Linked DNA regions of Homo sapiens: region 1 is linked to region 2. The links come from fine-mapping of genetic effects on gene expression. Tissue or cell type: blood mononuclear cells. Region 2 holds a variant in brackets; the other region holds the start of a gene. All regions are shown on one strand. Distances are between the middles of the regions.

The links. PIP is the estimated chance that this variant, and not a neighbour inherited with it, causes the effect.
Region 1: it holds the start of TSPO, and the variant in region 2 is fine-mapped to the expression of TSPO in blood mononuclear cells (TOPMed, PIP above 0.99).

Annotation. Positions count from the first base shown.
Region 1 is chr22:43,148,758-43,153,874 of GRCh38, forward strand. TSPO (translocator protein) reads left to right here and starts at 2,802. Exons shown (of 4, transcript NM_000714.6): 1 at 2,802-2,847. RefSeq lists a silencer at 2,554-2,773 and an enhancer at 3,395-3,494.
Region 2 is chr22:43,170,813-43,176,002 of GRCh38, forward strand. It overlaps TTLL12 (tubulin tyrosine ligase like 12), which reads right to left. Exons shown (of 14, transcript NM_015140.4): 7 at 3,687-3,803; 8 at 3,397-3,591; 9 at 2,903-3,014; 10 at 1,591-1,742; 11 at 1,007-1,088. Among named protein-coding and RNA genes, the nearest start is that of TTLL12, 14 kb to the right of the region's middle. The variant A/G (reference allele first, on the strand shown) is at 2,489.

The DNA.
Region 1 (5,117 bases), 22 kb before region 2:
AGAACAGCTCATGCCCCTGACCATTTCCTGCTGAATGCGCATGCCACAGCTGTGCTCAACGTCCTCACAGGGGAGCCCCACCCACAACCATGCCCTCTGCCTGCCCCAGAGGGGCCTCTTGTCAGTGCCCACAGAGGCCGGGCCCAGCCTGTACCCCAGGCGCTCAGCTGAGTTTATCTTCCCGGGAGTCTTCTGGCCTGGCCATGGTGCCTGTTCTGCCCCAGCTGGGGGTGTGCTGCCTCTCTGCACACATAGTACTCAGGGAAACACACCCGGGTGGGATTCATAAAACCCTAAAGGAAAGCAAGGGCGTGATCAACCCAAGTCAAAGTAAAGGTGATCTCTGGGGAGGGGAGGAATCGCTGGGGAGGTCACCAGGGCGCTCCTAGGACTCTCGTAATGTTCTGGTCATAACTGGGGAATGGGCACACCTGGTATTATTGTTGTAATGTGTACACGTGTGTGGTTTTTTTTTTTTTTTTTAAATTGAGTTTTGCTTTATCACCCAGGCTGGAGTGCAGAGGTGTGATCACGACTCACTGCAGCCTCCACCTCCCGGGTTAAAGTGATTCTCATGCTTCAGCCTCCCGAGTAGCTGGGATTAAAGGTGCCCGCCACAACGCCCAGCTAATTTTTGTATTTTTAGTAGAGATGGGGTTTCACCGTGTTGGCCAGGTTGGTCTCCAACTCCTGACCTGAAGTGATCTGCCTGCCTCGGCCTCCCGAAGTGCTAGGATTACAGGCGTGAGCCACTGCAACCAGCCACATGTGTGTCTTATTTTTATTTTATTTTATTTTTTGTTTTGTTTTTTTGAGAAAGAGTCTCACTGTGTCACCCAAGCTGGAGTGCAATGGCGTGATCTTGGCTCACTGAAACCTCCACCTCCCGGTTCAAGCGATTCTCCTGTGTCAGCCTCCTGAGTAGCTGGGATTACAGGCGCCTGCCACCATGCCCAGCTAATTTTTGTATTTTTAGTAGAGACTGGGTTTCACCATGTTGGTTAGGCTGGTGGCGAACTGCTGACCTCAGGTGATCCACCGGCCTCGGCCTCACAAAGTGCTGGGATTACAGGTGTGAGCCACCACGCCCGGCTAAGAAGGGATTTTTTTTTTTTTTTTTTGAGACGGAGTCTCGCTCTGTCACCAAGCTGGAGTGCAGTGGCACCGTCTCAGCTCACTGCAACCTCTGCCTCCTGGGTTCAAGAGATTCTCCTGCCTTAGCCTTCCAAGTAGCTGGGATTACAGGCACACACCACCATGCCCAGCTAATTTTTGTATTTTTAGTAGAGATGGGGTTTCACCATGTTGGCCAGGCTGGTCTCGAACTCCTGACCTAGTGATCCACCCACCTCGGCCTCCCAAAGTGCTGGGATTACAGGCATGAGCCACCGTGCCTGGCCAGAAGGAATTTTAAAAAAGAAAAAAAAAAAAAAAAACAAAGCTGCCAGGTGCGGTGGCTCACGCCTGTAATCCTAGCACTTTAGGAGGCCGAGGCAGTGGATCACTTCAGGTCAGGAGTTCGAGACTAGCCTGGCCAACATGGTGAAACCCCATCTCTACTAAAAATACAAAAATTAGCCGGGCATGGTGGCAGGCGCCTGTAATCCCAGCTACCGGGAGGCTGAGGGAGGAGAGAATCACTTGAACCCAGGAGGCAGAGGTTGCAGTGAGCCGAGATTGTGCCATTGTACTCTAGCCTAGGAGACAAGAGCGAAACTCCGTCTCAAAAAAAAAAAAAAAGAAACCCAGAAGAAAAAGATGAATGAAGAATGGAACCAAGCCTGGGTTATCCTTGTCTTCAGGCCAACACAGTAAAAAATAGATTTATGTATGTTTGTTTTTTAATAGAGGAAGAGGCTCACAAAGGCAAAAATGCCAGGTCCTAGGAAAGCCATACTGCAGCCTGGCTGGTCCCCAAGGAGGCTCCTGGCTTCTGTGTCTGGGTAGAAGTAGCCACAGTTCTCCTTGGACCCTGCAGGATCAGTTTGGGCCAACGTGGCTGGTTCAGGCTGATGGGGCGTTGCCAGGCTGAGTTGTCTGGAGGGAGCTGGGACAGCCTTGAACTGCAGCAAGACAGCCATAGTGCCAAGGGCCTGGGGCTGGACACACCCTGCATGGGAGTGGACCTGGGCAGCTGGAGGCCACCTCTGGGCTGTGATGATGGCAGCCTCCCCTCACTGAGCGCCGAGCATCTGAGGGGTGTCCTGCCTGCATCACCGCGTTGCGGCCTCATCAGTCCCACGACTTTGTGCCCATTTTACAGATGAGGAGATGGAGGCCCAGAGAGCCAGTCAGAAAGTGGCTGGGCCAGGACTAAGAGTGCAGCGCGCTGCCTCCGTGCCCTGCGTCAACAGCTCAAGGAACTGGGGTGCTCCGGAAATGGGGCCAAGGCTGCTGGGCAGCAGGACGCTCAGGGCCTTGGCCTCAGGAGAGGTAATTCCCCACTCGGAGATCGGTCTTGTTGCTGCATTTTATAGATGGGAAAAGTGAGGCTAGAAGAGACGACAAACGACACGCCGTTGGACACACGGCAACGTTTTAGATGTTGGGTCTGGCCGGGCGGCCGTCACCGGTCACCATGGGGAGGAGGAGGAGCCGAGAGACTTGCTCGCGGCCGGGGGGAGGCAGAAGCGCGTCCCGCGGGAGAGGTGGCTTTGAGGAGTGAGCTCCCGGTCCCGCGGGGACGCGAGTGGGCCCAGTGCCCGGGCTGCCAGGCGGGGCGGGGCGGGGCCGGGCGACTGAGAGGGGCGGGGCCTGGCGGCTGGGAGGGGCGGGGCGGATGCGGGGACAGCGGCCTGGCTAACTCCTGCCAGGCAGTGCCCTTCCCGGAGCGTGCCCTCGCCGCTGGTGAGTGAGGACGGGACGCGGAGGGGGCAGCGGGAAGTGGGGGCCCGCATGGCTGCGACTCTTGGCAGCGCCGCGGGACAGAGGGAAACTGAGGCCGGAGCCGCAGACTGGACACCCGAGGGGGCGACCCGGGGCAGCACTTGGGGCTCGGCTACCGGGTCAGGGGGCGGCGGGCAGCAGAGTCTGGGCCTCCGCGGCCGGGGTTCCAGCGCGGGCCGCCTCCGGCTGGGGGTTCGGGAGGGAAAACTTGGACAACCCTGCCACGCCCAGCCCTTGGCCGCGTGGCTTCTCCTGCAGGAAGCGCGGTCCCAGGAGTGGCCGACGCTCCCTCTCCTGCCCATTCCGCGGATGGGCAATCCCAGGCGGAACTCCCTTGAGGGTCTCAGAATATCTGGGAGACCTCGGGCTCTTGATCTCCGAGACACCCCGTTTCGTAGTGGAGAACAGTCCAGATCGGGGAAGTTTATTTTGCCCAAAGCCGGTTAGAGGCCCCCTGGCCCTCGATTCCCAGTGCGGGGCTCAGGTGCGTTGCAGCCTAGACGGGTCTTACTGTGAGCCGAGCAGCCTCTGGGACCTGTCTGCTTCCCCTACCCCTTGCAAAGAAGCCGGAGCCCAGGTAGGAGAAGCGGGGGCTTCCTGCTGTGAACGCGCTGCTGGCCAGGGCAGCTGCCAGAGGCCATGGCCTGGCGTGGGCCTGGAGCCCCTCTGGCCAGCCTGCCAGGGGCCAGGGCTACGGGATACCAGCAGCGTGCCCTGGGCTGGATGGCAGGAGAGACAGGACTTGAGGCTGTCCCAGAATGGGCTCAGGCAGGGCGAGGATATCAGGGGAGGTGGTGTACAGGAAGCAGCCGCCCAGCTTGCCTGGCACACAGCAAGCCCTGCCCATGAAGGCCTACTGCCAGAACAGTGGGCGAGGCCCGGCGTCTCTGTGGAGTCGGTGGGGCCCGGGACAGGGCAGCCTGAGGCAGGTTTCCACTGGCGGTGAAAGGGGCCGTGTGGCAAGGACAGGAGAGCCAGCCTCAGCCCAGCAGGGGAAGGCGGCCCCTGAGTCTCCACCTGGCTGCTGGCAGCCCCACAGGGAGGTTCGGCGAAACTGAGGCTTGCCAAAGAAGCCTTTGTCCAGAGTCACGCAGCTGGCGCGGTGGAGCCAGGGCCAGAACCCGTGCAGGCTGATCCCAGCCTGCCTTCTCCACTGTGCCCCGAGGACCACTTTCTTTCCTGGGAGTGTGTGTGTGCACATGTGCTGTGTCCTGTCGTCTGTACACACTTGTGCCTGGCGTGAGGCAGGATGTCTGGCTGGATCTACCAGAAAGTATTCACAGCGGGTTCTCCAGCTGGGGTGAGGGGCTTGGGCTCGCAGGGAGGGAGCCTACTTTTCACTTTAGCTTGCTTTCTTCCTTTCTTCCGTCCTTCCTTCCTCCCTCCCTCCCCTCCCCTTCCCACCCCTTCTTTCTCTTTCTTCTTTCTCTTTCTTTCTTTCTTTCCTTCCTTCCTTCTTTCCTTTCTCTTTCTCTTTTTTTCTTTCTTCCCCTTCCTTCCTTCCTTTCTTGTTTTTGTTTGTTTGTTTGAGACAGGGTCTCACTCTGGTATGCAGGCTGGAGTGCAGTGATGCAATCATAGCTCACTGCAGTCTCCTGCAGAACTCCTGGGCTCAAGCGATCCTCCCACCTCAGCCTCCCAAAGTGCTGGGATTACAGGCATGAGCCACTGTTCCTGGCTTATTTGTGTTTTCTTTTTTTTTTTTTTTTTTTTTTTTTTGAGACGGAGTCTCGCTCTGTCGCCCAGGCCGGACTGCGGACTGCAGTGGCGCAATCTCGGCTCACTGCAAGCTCCGCTTCCCGGGTTCACGCCATTCTCCTGCCTCAGCCTCCCGAGTAGCTGGGACTACAGGCGCCTGCCACCGCGCCCGGCTAATTTTTTGTATTTTTAGTAGAGACGGGGTTTCACCTTGTTAGCCAGGATGGTCTCGATCTCCTGACCTCATGATCCACCCGCCTCGGCCTCCCAAAGTGCTGGGATTACAGGCGTGAGCCACCGCGCCCGGCTTATTTGTGTTTTCTTTACTTTTGATGGTGCAAACAATGCTTGGATGTGCTCTCTGTTTAAAACGGTAGTCTTTTTTATTTTTTTTTTTAACCACTAGACCACTAGGGAAGTCATTCTTAATTTCTTATTTTTATTTATATATATATTTTTTGAGACGGTGTCTCGCTCCATTGCCCAGGCTGGAGTGCAGTGGCTCCAGCTGGGCTCACTGCAACCTCCGCCTC
Region 2 (5,190 bases):
CTGAGGCAGAAGGATGGCTTGGGCCCAGGAGATTGAGGTTGCAGTGAGCCCAGATCATGCCTCCGCACTCCAGCCTGGGTGACAGCGTGAGACATTGTCTCTCAAAAAAACAAAACAAAACAAAAAACCTAAGTAAGCAAAACAGCAGCTTGAATGGTCAGGAACATACTCCTGCTGAAAAGAACCAAAGACATGCCTGGGAATGACAGCCACACGTTCAGGGGTCGGGGAGCGTTGGGGCTGGCTGCATGGGGAGTCCGCGGCACCTGCAAGGCTGGCGACAGGCAGGGTGGGGTAGGTGTTCTGTGCATCTGAAACACTCATTAACCAGCCAGGCCACAGAGGCCTTCCAGGACTTCCTTTCTTCCTTCCTGTACCCAGAGCTGGCCTCCTGCTTCTGTGCAGGCTGTGCCTACCTGTCCACGTACACTGGCTGGCCAGCTCTGGTTTCTCGCCCCCACCTTGGAAGGGCCTTTGTCCAGATGCCCCTGAGCTCCAGGTGCTCAGATGGTGCAGCTGCCATTCACTGAGTGCCCACTGCATGGGGCACCGCTCAACACTGTGCACCAGGGAGGACAGGAGGTCCTAGACCCGGGCAGGGTCACGGGCCAGCAGCCAGCCGGACCAGGTGGGGCCTCCCCGCCCCCGCCTGCCCTGGCACTCACAGGGTGGTCTGCTTTTCCGGTTGAAGTGGTGGTGAGGAGTAAGCCCCGGCTGGGAACACACTGTCTCAACCTGCTGCTGGACCCATCCCCCTCTGTGTCCACATTATCTCAAACACAGCCAGTGGCCCTCTGTGCCGTGGGGAGACCTACCTGAGACAACACAGAACCCAGCCTGGCTCATGATGGCAGCGCTAACAATCGCCTTCCATAGCAGGAACTCAGGAGGCGGCTCCTGGGACTGGCCTGTGTGCCAGTCCTCCTAGGAGGCAGTGTGGGCGGGGTGGGGTCGGGTGTGCCCTGGCCTCTGTGTGAACCTGCTCTGCACCTCCCTCAGGCCCTACCTGCTTCAGCACCACATCCGGGTCATAGTTCATGACCGTGAAGTGCTTCTCGTAGTCATCCAGGTCGTTGAGTGCAAAGGCCCTGGAAGACAAGTGTGCAGACACATATGGGTTCTTGAGCGGCCTTGTCCCTGCGAGGGAGGTGCCACCCACTCAGCCTTCCCAACTAGGGGTTCAGGGCTCAGGGCAGGACCACCTGCTGCTCAGGCGGGAGCCTGTTCCCTTGTCTGTGTGGCTGGGGGAGCCCCACAGCCCCACTGAGCTGGGGTGGAGGTGAGTGAGGTGCTAGCTGTGAAGCCTCTGCAGGTCCATAAAAATGGCACCTGGTTCTCATGTTGGTGCCCATTTTACAAAGAATGTTCACATCCATTACTGTGGGCAACACCAGAACTCTGAGGTGGGCAGGGCAAGTCACCGCCAATTAACACCAAGGGAGATGGGCTCCAAGGGCCGCTAGCTGGGTGAGTGATGGAGGGTGCCTTCCAACAACATTTTCTGATTCCAAAAAGGGCCCATCACCCACCCGCTACCTCCACCCGGTCACCCAGCTCCCCGACCCTGGACCCAGCCGGCCCTCCACTTACCGGTTGGAGAACCGCAGCCAGAACACATCATACACGAACAACCGTAGGGGCCTCACTGACCGCAGCAGCACGATGTAGCGGATGTCGAACTTGACCTTTCCCACGTCTTCTCGAAGGAACAACACGGGACTTTCGATGTACTTGGACACAACCTGGAGGACACAGGTGCAAGCTCGCTGGTGGCCAGGACAGAGCCCCCTGGGGCTCCCGAGCACACAAAGCCACGCAGGGGGCACAGACATGGCTGCACTTTACTCCTCCTTCTGCCTTTTCAAACCTGCCTAAGTTGCTGCAAAGTCTTTTTTTTTTTTTTGAGACAGAGTTTTGTTCTGTTGCCCAAGCTGGAGTGCGGTGGCACAATGTTGGCTCACTGCAACCTCTGCCTCCCGGGTTCAAGCGATTCTCCTGCCTCAGCCTCCTGAGTAGCTGGGATTACAGGTGCCCGCCACCACCCCCAGCTAATTTCTGTATTTTTAGTAGAGAAGGGGTTTCTCCATGTTGGCCAGGCTGGTTTCGAACTCTTGACCTCAGGTGATCCGCCCACCTTGGCCTCCCAAAGTGCTGGGATTACAGGTGTGAGCCACCGCACCCTGAAGCAAAGTCTTTATATCCATTTTTAATTGAAATGAAATATAAATTCTCACCCATAATTCCATCCACCCCCATCCCATGGCCTGAAGTCTCCACGACAATCGTCCTCATGATGCATTTCCCGCCAGCCTCTGACTATGTACACAGTCCAGGCAGATCCTGTGTCCTGCAATCCCAATACTGCTTCTGGATGTCCCCTCACTATGAATCTTTACCACGGCTCTGAGAGGCTCCTTGTCCAGGCTCAGCCACCTCACCCTGCTGGGCAGCCATACCTGGCACACTATGTGGTAGGAACTTTGCGATT[A/G]GACGCACCCAGGACAGTTCTTTTTTTAAAGACTGGGTCTTGCTCTGTCGCCCAGGGCGGAGTGCAGTGACGCGATCACAGCTCACTGCAGCCTCAACCTCCCGGGCTCAAGTGATCCTCCTGCCTTAGCCTCCTGAGAAGCTGGGACTACAGGTGTGTGCCAACATGCCCAGATAATTTTTAAAGTTTTTTCCCTTGTAGAAACGAGGTCTCCCTATGTTGCTCAGGTTGGTTCCAAACTTCTGGGCTCAAGTGATCCTCCTCCACTTCCCAGAGTGCTGAGATTACAGGTGTAAGCCACCCTGCCCAGCCTGGACCTGTCCATAAGGACCATGATGCTCGGTCCCCTTAGCCCCACCTCTCACTGTCCAGCCAGGGCCCTGAGCCCTGGGGCTCCTGGTCTGCGGGGCCCACCTTGGGGGTGCTCTCTCGGTGCCGGATGATGCTGTGCAGGCTCTTGGTGACGTGGGTGTCCAGGCTGCGCGCCAGGTTCCAGGGCTTGCAGATCCAGTGGTTGTCCTCGCCCCTGGGGAGCAGAAGGGCTGTCTGGGGGGCGCCTGGGGCCTGTGTTCCCAGATGGTGCCACCCCAGGACCCAGAGGCAGAAGAGGGCAGCCCACTTCTCCTTGGGAGCTGAGGGGGCACCAGAGAGCTGTCAGAGGCAGGGGCATGGGAAACAAGGAGGGGTTTGCCAGAGGCCAGGCAGCTGCGCTGCGGTGGAGAGGACAGCCCCAGCAAAAACCTGGAGAGGTCCTGCGGTCCGTGAAGACGGCCGTGACGTTCGGGGCCCACAGCTCGGCTCCTGCACCACGGTTTCCACAGTGGGTGCTCATGGAGGAGCAGGCGGACACAGACGCTGGGCCGGGGAAAAGGGCCATGGAGCACACCGATGCCGTGTCTGGGACTTACCACCTTTCCCGCTGCTGGAAGTAGCTGACAAACTGGGGCAGCTCAGTGCGCAGGTTGAAGGTTCGGGGCAGCCAGGGTGGGCCCTCGGGGCCACCTGCCCGGCGCGCGATGGAGGCCAGGCAGTCCTTGACAGTCAGCAGGTTCTCGCAGGGGAACTGGTTCAGCAGCACGCCTGGCCTCTCCTGGCTGAGTTTCCTGCAGGGCGGAGGCAGGTGCGCCAGCTCAAGGGGAGGCCGGCAGTGCCTAGAAGCCCTGACTGGGAGGGCCCCTGCGGCCAGAGGTGCCCTCACCTGTAGTCCTTGAAGTGTGAGAAGTTGAAGAGGATGTCGGCGTCCGCCTCACTCTGGGTGAGGGTGAAGCGCGGGTGGGTGAGGCTGCTGGCCACCTGCTGCACGTCCGTGTAGACCCTGTGGGGAGAGCCCGAGCTGGGTGATCCCGGCTCCCAAGTGTCCAAGCGGGACTCCAGCACTAGCCCTGGCTCAGGGACTCCCTTCCCTGTTTTGAAGCTAATGAGGCAGAGGCAAGTCCTGGGTTCGAGTCATGATGCTGGACAGCCCGGGTTCAGACCCCGCTCCCTCCAATCTGCTGAGGGAGGGGCGCAACCTGTACCCTTGTGACCCCTGGTTCCCCATCCGCAGGACTGGACCACACCGTCCACCTCACATTTGTCATTAAAATTAAATGGCATAATTTGGGTGTTTATTATGTGCTAGTTCTTTCCTCTCACATGCAAAACAAGAGGATGAGGCTGGGGCCACCAATCTCAGACAGGCACACCAAGGGCCTCCGTGAGGCCTCTGCCCCAGAGGAGGTGGAGGGACCTTAGGCCCTGGCCAGGTCACCACAAGACTCACGTCTCAGCAAGAGCCCCTGGGCTGCCCAGCTGGGGCAGAGGCCAGCAGGGAGGAAAGCCCTCAGGCCCGGTGGAGGGGGCAGAGTGGAGCAGCCTGCCTGTTCTTGGCTAGACCAGGTTTGGGCAGCCAAGGGGAGTGTCTGGGAGCCTCAGGGAGGGGCTCCTGTGAAGGCTGAGGTGGAATCTGCTCTGCATCTCTGGGTCCTCACCTGTGCCTGCTTCTGCAAGGTGTCCCGCCTGGACCTGCCGGCCTGGCTTTCCTTAACTCAACAGCCACACCTGCAGCCTCCTGGGAGGGGCCCCTACTGGCAGCCCGGGTGCCTGTTGTGGGTGCCCAGCATGTTCCTGGCCAGCAAAGGCTCCCTGCTGTGGGGAGGGCTGGCATGCACAGGCCTGGCTAGTGTCGGTTTCCAGGACTGGATGAGCATCGTATCCAGGTAAGCGGAGCAGCCCCATGACATGCAAGGTTGGTAACAGGACCCCTTGGTGCCCAGAGGACAGGGGTGGGATGGGGACCAGTGGTGGCCAACGCTTCTGCCCAGGGGGCCCTTTACCCACTCACTGCCAGCATTTCCATGGCCTATTCCTATTTTTAACTTTCAAAGATGAATTTATTTTATTTTTTTTTAAGGAGTCTTGCTCTGTAGCCCAGGCTGGAGTGCAGTGGCCCGATCTCAGTTCACTGCAGGCTCTGCCTCCCAGGTTTCAAGTGATTCTTCTTCCTCCTTGGCCTCCCGAGTAGCTGTGATTACAGGCGCCAGCCACCATGCCCTACTAATTTTTTTTTTTTTTTTTTTTGTATTTTTAGTAGAGACGGGCTTTCACCATGCTGGCCAGGCTGGTGTTGAACTCCCGATCTCAGGCGATCTGCCTGGTTTGGCCTCCCAAAGTGCTGGGATTACAGGCATGAACCACTATGCCTGGCCTCATAGGTGAGGTGT